Homo sapiens: one gene and its partner. The protein of the gene in region 1 purifies or fractionates together with the protein of each later gene. This does not show direct contact. Each region holds a gene or a part of one and is shown in the gene's direction. Other genes may lie near its edges.

Region 1 (4,017 bases):
TGGACCCTAAATTGGATCCTCTTCCTGCTGAGAGTCCCCTAATGAACATTGAGGTTGTTGAGGTCCTCACACTGAACCAGGAGGTGGCTGGTCCCCGGAATGCCCAGATCCAGGCCCTATATGCTGAAGATGGAAGCCTGAGTGCAGATGCCCCCAGTGAGCAGGTCCAACAGCAGGGCAAGCATCCAGGTGACCCTGAGGCCGCGCGCCAGAGGTTCCGGCAGTTCCGTTATAAGGACATGACAGGTCCCCGGGAGGCCCTGGACCAGCTCCGAGAGCTGTGTCACCAGTGGCTACAGCCTAAGGCACGCTCCAAGGAGCAGATCCTGGAGCTGCTGGTGCTGGAGCAGTTCCTAGGTGCACTGCCTGTGAAGCTCCGGACATGGGTGGAATCGCAGCACCCAGAGAACTGCCAAGAGGTGGTGGCCCTGGTAGAGGGTGTGACCTGGATGTCTGAGGAGGAAGGTAAGTAGAAGGGTGGGTAGAGGGACAGCTTAATGAGGGTGTCTTGGAGTACCCTGTGGGGGAGATAAGAACTCCAGGCTTCCTAGGAAGGTCATGGGAAGGATTGTGTCCGCTCCATACAGACCAAGGACATCCATGTTGCCCACGTGTTCCTGAGTCAGAGCCACTGAAACCCTTGCATTCTTTAGCCCTTCGTGGGCTTCTGATGGAAGCACACAGATGAAGTGCTTCATTTTTATCCCTCTGGCATCCCTGCTGCACCATAAGCCCTGTAGCACTTGATAAGATAGATGGGAATACTGAGCTCAGAGAGCCCGCAGTAGCAGGAGAGACAGGGATTTGACAAATGAGAATGCATAGAAAAATGCTGGGACTATGAGGAGCTCGAGGTGATGGTGAGGCTTATGAAGGTCTGCAGCTGACACCTGGTGTGGAGTGGAACTTGGCCAGGGTAAAGAAAGGGGGCAGGAAAGATGTGCCATGCAGAGGGGAGCACTGCCTGTAAGGGCCAAGATGGAAGGGATCACAGTAAATGCAAAACTCAGAAAAATCGGTTATGTTTGTGATGGAAGGGAGCAGAGGTTGGAGCTGGCACTGCCAGTGGGGACTTTAGTCCTAAAGCAAAGCAAAATGTTCTTCTAAAACAGTAGGGCTCGATCCCTGAGTTCCAGAAACTGGTGGCACCACTGGATTTGACCTTTAGAGATTTACCAGGCTGCATGTGTGGTGGATGGTGGACAGAGGATGGGGGCGAGGCTGGACACAGGCTACCCGCAGCTATTGCCATGCCCTCTGATGGGGTGGTGTCTTGGATAGGAGTGATGGTGATGTCTGACTGGGGAGAGACTACACGTGTGGAGTGTGTATTTGGGAATAAGACTGCAAGACTTGGTTTCTTCATCAGGCTGAGTTTCACAGAGCGTGCATGCTTCTGCATTGCTCACCTCCATTTTCCACATTTCACGGGTGCCCAGAAGATGTTTCTGATGTGAACGAATGATTGACTGGTTGATGTTTGTGATTGCAGGAAAGGGGAAGGTATCCTGCAGGGGGATGGTGGGATTCTAAGAGGCCAGGGCATCCTGGAGATCGGGTATCCGAGGCAGCAGGGCAGGCACTTGCATGAGTTGTGTCAGATGCACCAAGTCTGGGGTGCTGTACTTGGCAGAATAATTGCCCCAAAGGTGTCCATGTCCTGACTCCTGGACCCTGTGAATAAGTTGCCTCACATGACAAAGGGGACTTTGCAGAAACAATTAAGGATCTTGAGAGGGAGAGATGCACTGGATTATTTGAGTGGATCTAACATAACCACAGGGGCCCTTAGGAGAGGGAGGCTGGAGGGTCAGAGGAGATGTAATGATAGGAGCAGCTGATAGAGGAAGAAGCCATAAGCCAAATGTTTGGGGCAGCCTCTAGAAGCTGGAAAAGGCAAGGAATGGATTCTCCCTTGGAGCCTCCAAAAGGAACATAGCCATGCTGACACCTTCATTTTAGCCCAGTGAGGCACAAACCAGACTTCTCATCTCCAGAACCATAAGGTAATACATTTGCATTAATCTGAGCCGCTGGCATTGTGGCAATTCACTATAACAGCAATAGGAAACTAGTTAGTTAGGTGCCAAGGAGACAGTTGTGGGGTTAATGAGGTGAAAGTCAGTGAATTCACCCTGTGTTTAACCTCAGGGGTGAATAAAATAAATTAGTGCCACAGAAGACAATGGGAAGAGGCTTTCCAGAGAACCCTGAGAATCTCACATTATGTGATCAGTGTGTTAGTTGGGACGCTTGAGTGTGACTGCTGCAAAGCCTTGCACAGAATGGCTCAAGGGAGAAGGAGAATTTATTGGAAAAGTTCCAGGGTGCTCGAGCATCAGGCAGGGCTGGACCCAGGAGCTCCAATAGTGTCCTCCAGACTTGTCCTGTCCCTCATTCTTACCTCTTCTGCCCTCCACTGGCTTCATCATGGGCAGGCTGTCTCCCTGCATGGGATTTCTCTTTCCCAAATGTTCCAACTAAGGCCTTGTTGGCTCCAATCATCTGGCTATAGGCTGTGTTCATCCCAGATCTAATCACTGTGGCCAAGAGAAAGGGATGGTCCAGTGTGCCAGCCTAAGTCATCTTGTGGCCCACCTTGATGGTGGGGGTAGATTAGCATTGTGGAAGCCTGTGGACCATTTGGGGTCATGTGAGGAAGGTTAGAATGAAGGAGCCGTGGTTACAGGGGCCCTTGGGCCAGGTGGAGCTGTTGTTTTCTTAGGTGGAGGAGACTTGGTGACGTTCACCTCAAGATGGCTGCATTTCATGGGTCCAGGGAAAGTCTCACCTTCCATGAGGTGGGAGGAGAGAGGGAAGAAGGAAGAGGTGCCCAAATAGGCAGGGTGCAGGGCTTGGAGGCCGGAAACAGGGGCTTTGACTCTAAGGAGGGGGCGTCAGTCAGCTGCCTCACAGGAGGGGCTGGGGCCCTCAGCAGCCCCCGGAAAGGGAAGGAGTGGGACCAGAGTCTCAGCAGTGAGGACACTGGTGCCCTGTGACCCTTGGAGGGTGAGCCATCCCGGGCCCATCCAGGTGTGGGCACTCGGGCACGTGCTGTGAGGGGAGCAGAGCTGGTGGGAAGGGAGGACAGGAGCAGAGGCTGTCATGGAGCCACAGTACGATGCAGGGGTGCGGTGGCCCCATGGGTTGCAGAGAGGCCACCCTTGCCCTGCCTAAGGGTCCCCACACCTGCTGACCTCCTCTGGCTGGTGTCTCCTCCCAGTACTTCCTGCAGGACAACCTGCCGAGGGCACCACCTGCTGCCTCGAGGTCACTGCCCAGCAGGAGGAGAAGCAGGAGGATGCAGCCATCTGCCCAGTGACAGTGCTCCCTGAGGTAAGCGGGGAGTATCACCCTGTTTTGGTCACAGCATCTCCTGTGAGGCAGGCCCACCCCTGAGGCATCCACTCTGCCCTGGGCTTTCCTAAGACCTCCCACAGGCTGGGACATTCTGAGATTCTGAGCTCTTAGGTCTGTGCTGAAGCAATCTGAGTATGAAGAGCAGCCCTGCCCTCCAGCCACTGTGGCATCACTGGAGACAACGCATGGTGACCCGGGAGCTGAGAAAGCAGGAGGCAAGAGGGAAGGGACTAAGTGTTTACAGAGACTTGAGAGGTGGAACTACCACAGGCAGGCACATCTGTATCCAGGTCAGAACAAGAGAGCCCTCAACCTTCAGAAATGCATACTTAGGTATTTATCTTTGGTATCTGGGATTTGCTTCAGAATAACCCAGAGCTGGGGTGTGGGTGAAAAAGATTGGTCCTGATGCGCTGACCACTGGGGTAGTGGTATGTATGTGTCATTGGTCAGACCTGTTTGCACTGCAAATGGCTTATACTGGCTCAAGCGTAGAAGTCAATTTATTGGCTCTCATGTATTCTCTGGTAGGCTTCAGGCAAGGCTGCATCCAGGTGCTCCCAGGTGATGGGAAGAATCTCTGGCCAACCTGTTTCATGGCTCTGCTTTCTCCCCTTTCTTCTTCTTTTTTTTTGAGATGGAGTTTCACTCTTGTTG
Region 2 (4,261 bases), on another chromosome or scaffold:
AGAGATGCATAGCTATTCTCATAACCTAGGAAGAGAGGTGGATTTCTCCGTCATCAATAGCTGAACACTCCTTGTGTTTCTAAGTATTGAATCCATAAAGTTACATGCAAACATACAGCCCTTGCCTTCAGGCCAAGCCGTAGTTATGCAGAAGGCTTGAAGCAATCACAGATTTAACATTTGTGGTTCCAGCTATTCAGGACCAATTCCCAAACTCCACGACATGTAACAATTTGTAATTTTGCTAGGACACAGTTTGATGCTTAGGTTTTAAGGCTGGTGTGCTAGACGTTATCAAGTGGTTTGTGAGAGTAGCCCTGTGTCTCCATTGGGTAGAGTAGCTGGGTCGCAAGGATCATGAAGAGATGAAGAAATGGCTGTGAAAAGCCAACTAGCCTCGGTGATAGTAAGCAAAGGTATAGAAACACTAAGGAAGTTACCCTTTGTATTGTCAAAGGTTTCAGTTTTGTGTAAGGTGGTGATTCACGGGCAGTTAATCTCCATCACTAAAATTAAATCCTTTTTTATTCATTGCAAATAGATAATCTGTGGAAGACATTTTGGCTTTTCTCGCTAGCAGAAAATGTGAGGCTTCTTCAGGTTTTTCCTGTTCATTGTTTCACGGGAGCATCTTCCCCAAAACACTGCAAAACTCAAAGTTCTCAGGCTGATGTGGCAGAAAGAGCATTGATCTCGGCTTCAGGAGCTAAATTCTCTAGTCCTGACTGTGCCACTAACAGACTGTGGGACTTCAGACAAGTACATTCCTTTCTCGGGTTTCTTATGTCAAATGGACAGCGTGAGAAGGATCACAATGAACCAGGGATCAGCTTCACGATTAAAACCTAAGACTTAAGAGACGGACATCTGTCCGTTCCTGGCTACACCTCCGGCCCATCTGGCCCACCCCAAACTGCGCGAAGCCCCTCTCCACCGACGCCAGGCCTGTGGCCTCGCGCGAAGCTGTTGGTCGTTAACATCTCCCCCGCAATGGGCGGGATGGAGGGCTTCAGCTTCCGGCTGCAAATGGCGAGGCGGCGCGCGGCGTTGCCCACTGGCCTCGGCATGGGCCTGCCCACGCACCCGCCCAGCGCGCGCCGGACCCTGTCTACCGCCGTTGAAGGGCTTCCCAGCCCTAGCAGTGCGTACTGGGAAGCCCCCAAAAGGCTCTGCGAGGCCGAGGAGACCCGTTCGGAGTGGGGGAGGGGAAGATAAACCGAACTATTTATGTTAATCAGTGCATGCTTCCTTTATGGAGATTGGCCAGGGTTTTACTCTAGTAACCAATCACTTCAGAACAAGGGCGGGCCCGTTGATATCTCTCACACTCATTGGTTGAGAGGTTGCGGCGCAATGGAAGGTCTTAAACCGAGAGTATCCGGGATTATTTTTCCCCGCCGTGCGGTGCGTGTCCCGGAAGTGACGCATGGCCAAGGCCGGGCGGCCGCCTTGCCCCCGCTTCCTTTCACGCTGTCGCTGCCCGTAGGTGGTTGTGGCCACTGTGCCCGGAGGGAGGCGGCGGTGGCCAGTAATGCCTGGGAAACTCCTCTGGGGGGACATTATGGAGCTGGAAGCACCCTTGGAGGAGTCCGAGAGCCAGAAGAAGGAGAGGCAAAAGGTGCGCTGAGCATGGGCCGCGCCTCCTTTTGGGCTGCGCCGGCTTGGGCGGGGAGGGGAACTGTCTGTCCCTGATGATGGCCTGTCAGAACCGGGCCGGAGCATCCGAGGGCCTCCCTTCGCGCCGCCCTCGGCCCTCTGGGGTCGCTCAGGGACCGTTTCCACCTCCACCCTCCCGACCTGGAGAAAGATGGCCCTGGGCTTTGGGCCTCTCCTCCGCGTGGCCCCTCAGCCCTTCCCGTTGGCGCCTGAATCTCAGATGGGCAGACTCAAGCTCCCATCACCATGGAATCTGTTCTTTCTCTCCTGAAGCAGTGACGCTTGCCATTTCGTTTTCATTGGCCCTCTTAGAAGATGATTAAGAAAAAATGATTGCTTTGAATATGTGTTGCTTCTGTCACCCCGTCCCCTGTGCAAGAATCCTGGGGAAAGCGATCTTAGGTTTACAGACCTCAATAACTAGTCTGTAGAGGCTTAAGGAAAAGTGTCACTGAGACTTGCCAGGATTTGTCAGTGATGGAGATCGTGTGGGTTGCATTATTAATAGCCTTTACTGTCAGTATTTTCATTCAATCCGCAGGTGTTTATTGAACCTAATTTGTACCATACTCTTTGCTGAGTACCAAGGAGGTTAAACTAAATAAGTAAAGAAATGGTCTCTGCTCTCAAGGAGCCTGTAGAGGAGTTGTAGTCTTTCCTCCTCCCAGCCCCCTGCCCTCCAAAAAAAAAAAAAAAAAAAAAGGAAAAGAAAAAACATCCTGAAACACTCAGAGGATCACAAGGTGCTGAAAAAATGCCCAGGTAAAATTATTACTGGAGACATTTGACCTGGAAAAAAGAAATCAGCTGAAGAGGCTAAGGTGGCAGTATTCGAAGGCTGACATTCGACAAAAGAATGAGACTTATTTTGTATAGCCTTAGAAAGCAGAATCTACCTCTCTGACCTTATCACTAAGGTAAACTTGCCATTTCAGCTAACACTTTTATTGTGCTAAAATACACATAACGTTTATCATTTTAACCATTTTTAAGTATATAGCTCTGTGACATTAAGTATATTTACATCGTTTTGCAGCTGTCACCATCATCCATCTCCAGAACTTTTCATTGTCCCAGACTGAAACTCTGTGCCCATTAAACACTCACTTCTCATTCCTCTCTCCTTCCACTCCCGGCAACTACCATTCTACTTTCGCTCTGTGAATTTGACTACTGAAGTTACCTAGAGTGTAAGCAGAAAACCAAGCAGGTATTTTAAAAAAGGCTTCTTTTGAAATTCTTGTCTTTTGCATCCCAATCCTGTCCAGCGGTCAAGGCCTAGTTTATGTCTTTCCTGACAACCCGAATGTACCGTTATCTAGTTTCAGTGGCTATCTTCATCATTTGATTGACATTTGTTATGCATGTCTATATAAAATTAGTTCATTTTTCCTGTATGTATCCCACATATTTCCCAAAAGTTCTTGAGGAAAGTGACCAAATCTTTATCCATCCTTATGTTTCACTATGTTGTTTTAAATTGGTGGCTTTCACATTGTAAATTCTCCAGAAATACATATTGACTGCCCTTTAACTATGAAAGATAACCAGAGATTTGGAAACGAATTGGAATACCAACTAAAAGAAATAGAGCATTAGAATACAGGTCTGGTGGCTAGCTGCAGTGGCTCATGCCTGTAATCCTAGCACTTTGGGACGCTGAGATGGGAGGATTGCTTGAGCCCAGAAGTTTAGGTAGAGTTTTGTAGAGACCCTGTCTCTACAAAAAATAAAAAAATTAGCCGGGTGCGGTGGCTCATGCCTGTAATCCCAGCACTTTGGGAGGCTGAGGCAGGCAGATCACCTGAGGTCAGGAGTTCAAGACCAGCCTGGCCAACATGGTTAAATCCCATCTCTGCTAAAAATATAAAAATTGGGCCGGGCATGGTGACTCACTCCTGTAATCCCAGCACTTTGGGAGGCTGAGGCGGGTGGATCGTGAGGTCAGGAGATCGAGACCATCCCGGCCAACATGGTGAAACACCATCTCTACTAAAAATACCAAAAAAGGCCAGGTGCGGTGGCTCACGTCTGTAATGCCGGCATTTTTGGAGGCTGAGGCAGGTGGATCACCTAAGGTCAGGAGTTCGAGACCAGCCTGGCCAACATGGTGAAACTCCGTCTTTACTAAAAATACAAAAATTAGCTGGGCATGGTGGCACATGCCTGTAATCCCAGCTACTCAGGAGGCTGAGGTAAGAGAATCGTATGAACCCGGGAGGCTGAGGTTGCAGTGAGCTGAAATCGCACCACTGCACTGCAGCCTGGGTGACACAGCGAGACTCCATTTAAAAAAAAAACCCAAAAAACCCAAAAATTAGCTGGGTGTGGTGGCGCGTGCCTGTAATTCCAGCTACTCGGGAGGCTGAGATACAGGAATTGCTTGAACCTGGGAGGCAGAGGTTGCAGTGAGCCGAGATCGCACCATTGCACTCCAGCCTGGGTGACAGAGCAAGACTCCGTCTCAGAAAAAAAAAAAAAAAAATTAGCTGGGCGTGGTGGCAGACGCCTGTAATCCCAGCTACTCGGGATGCTAAGGCAGGAGAATTGCTTGAACCCAGGAGGCAGAGGTTGCAGTGAGCCAAGATCACGTCATTGCACACCA

The links.
Region 2: the proteins of ZNF274 (region 1) and DDX50 purify together in Homo sapiens (co-immunoprecipitation; one large-scale study listed by IntAct). This does not show direct contact.

The regions. Positions count from the first base shown.
Region 1 is NC_000019.10:58,206,738-58,210,754, forward strand, and holds part of ZNF274 (neurotrophin receptor-interacting factor homolog), read left to right. Parts: coding exon 1-465; intron 466-3,223; coding exon 3,224-3,336; exon of another isoform or gene 3,337-3,693; intron 3,694-4,017. UniProt on the Homo sapiens protein: Probable transcription repressor. Specifically binds to the 3'-end of zinc-finger coding genes and recruiting chromatin-modifying proteins such as SETDB1 and TRIM28/KAP1, leading to transcription repression.
Region 2 is NC_000010.11:68,899,854-68,904,114, forward strand, and holds the start of DDX50 (ATP-dependent RNA helicase DDX50), read left to right. Parts: upstream 1-1,461; 5' UTR 1,462-1,531; coding exon 1,532-1,618; intron 1,619-2,202; exon of another isoform or gene 2,203-2,573; intron 2,574-4,261. UniProt on the Homo sapiens protein: ATP-dependent RNA helicase that may play a role in various aspects of RNA metabolism including pre-mRNA splicing or ribosomal RNA production.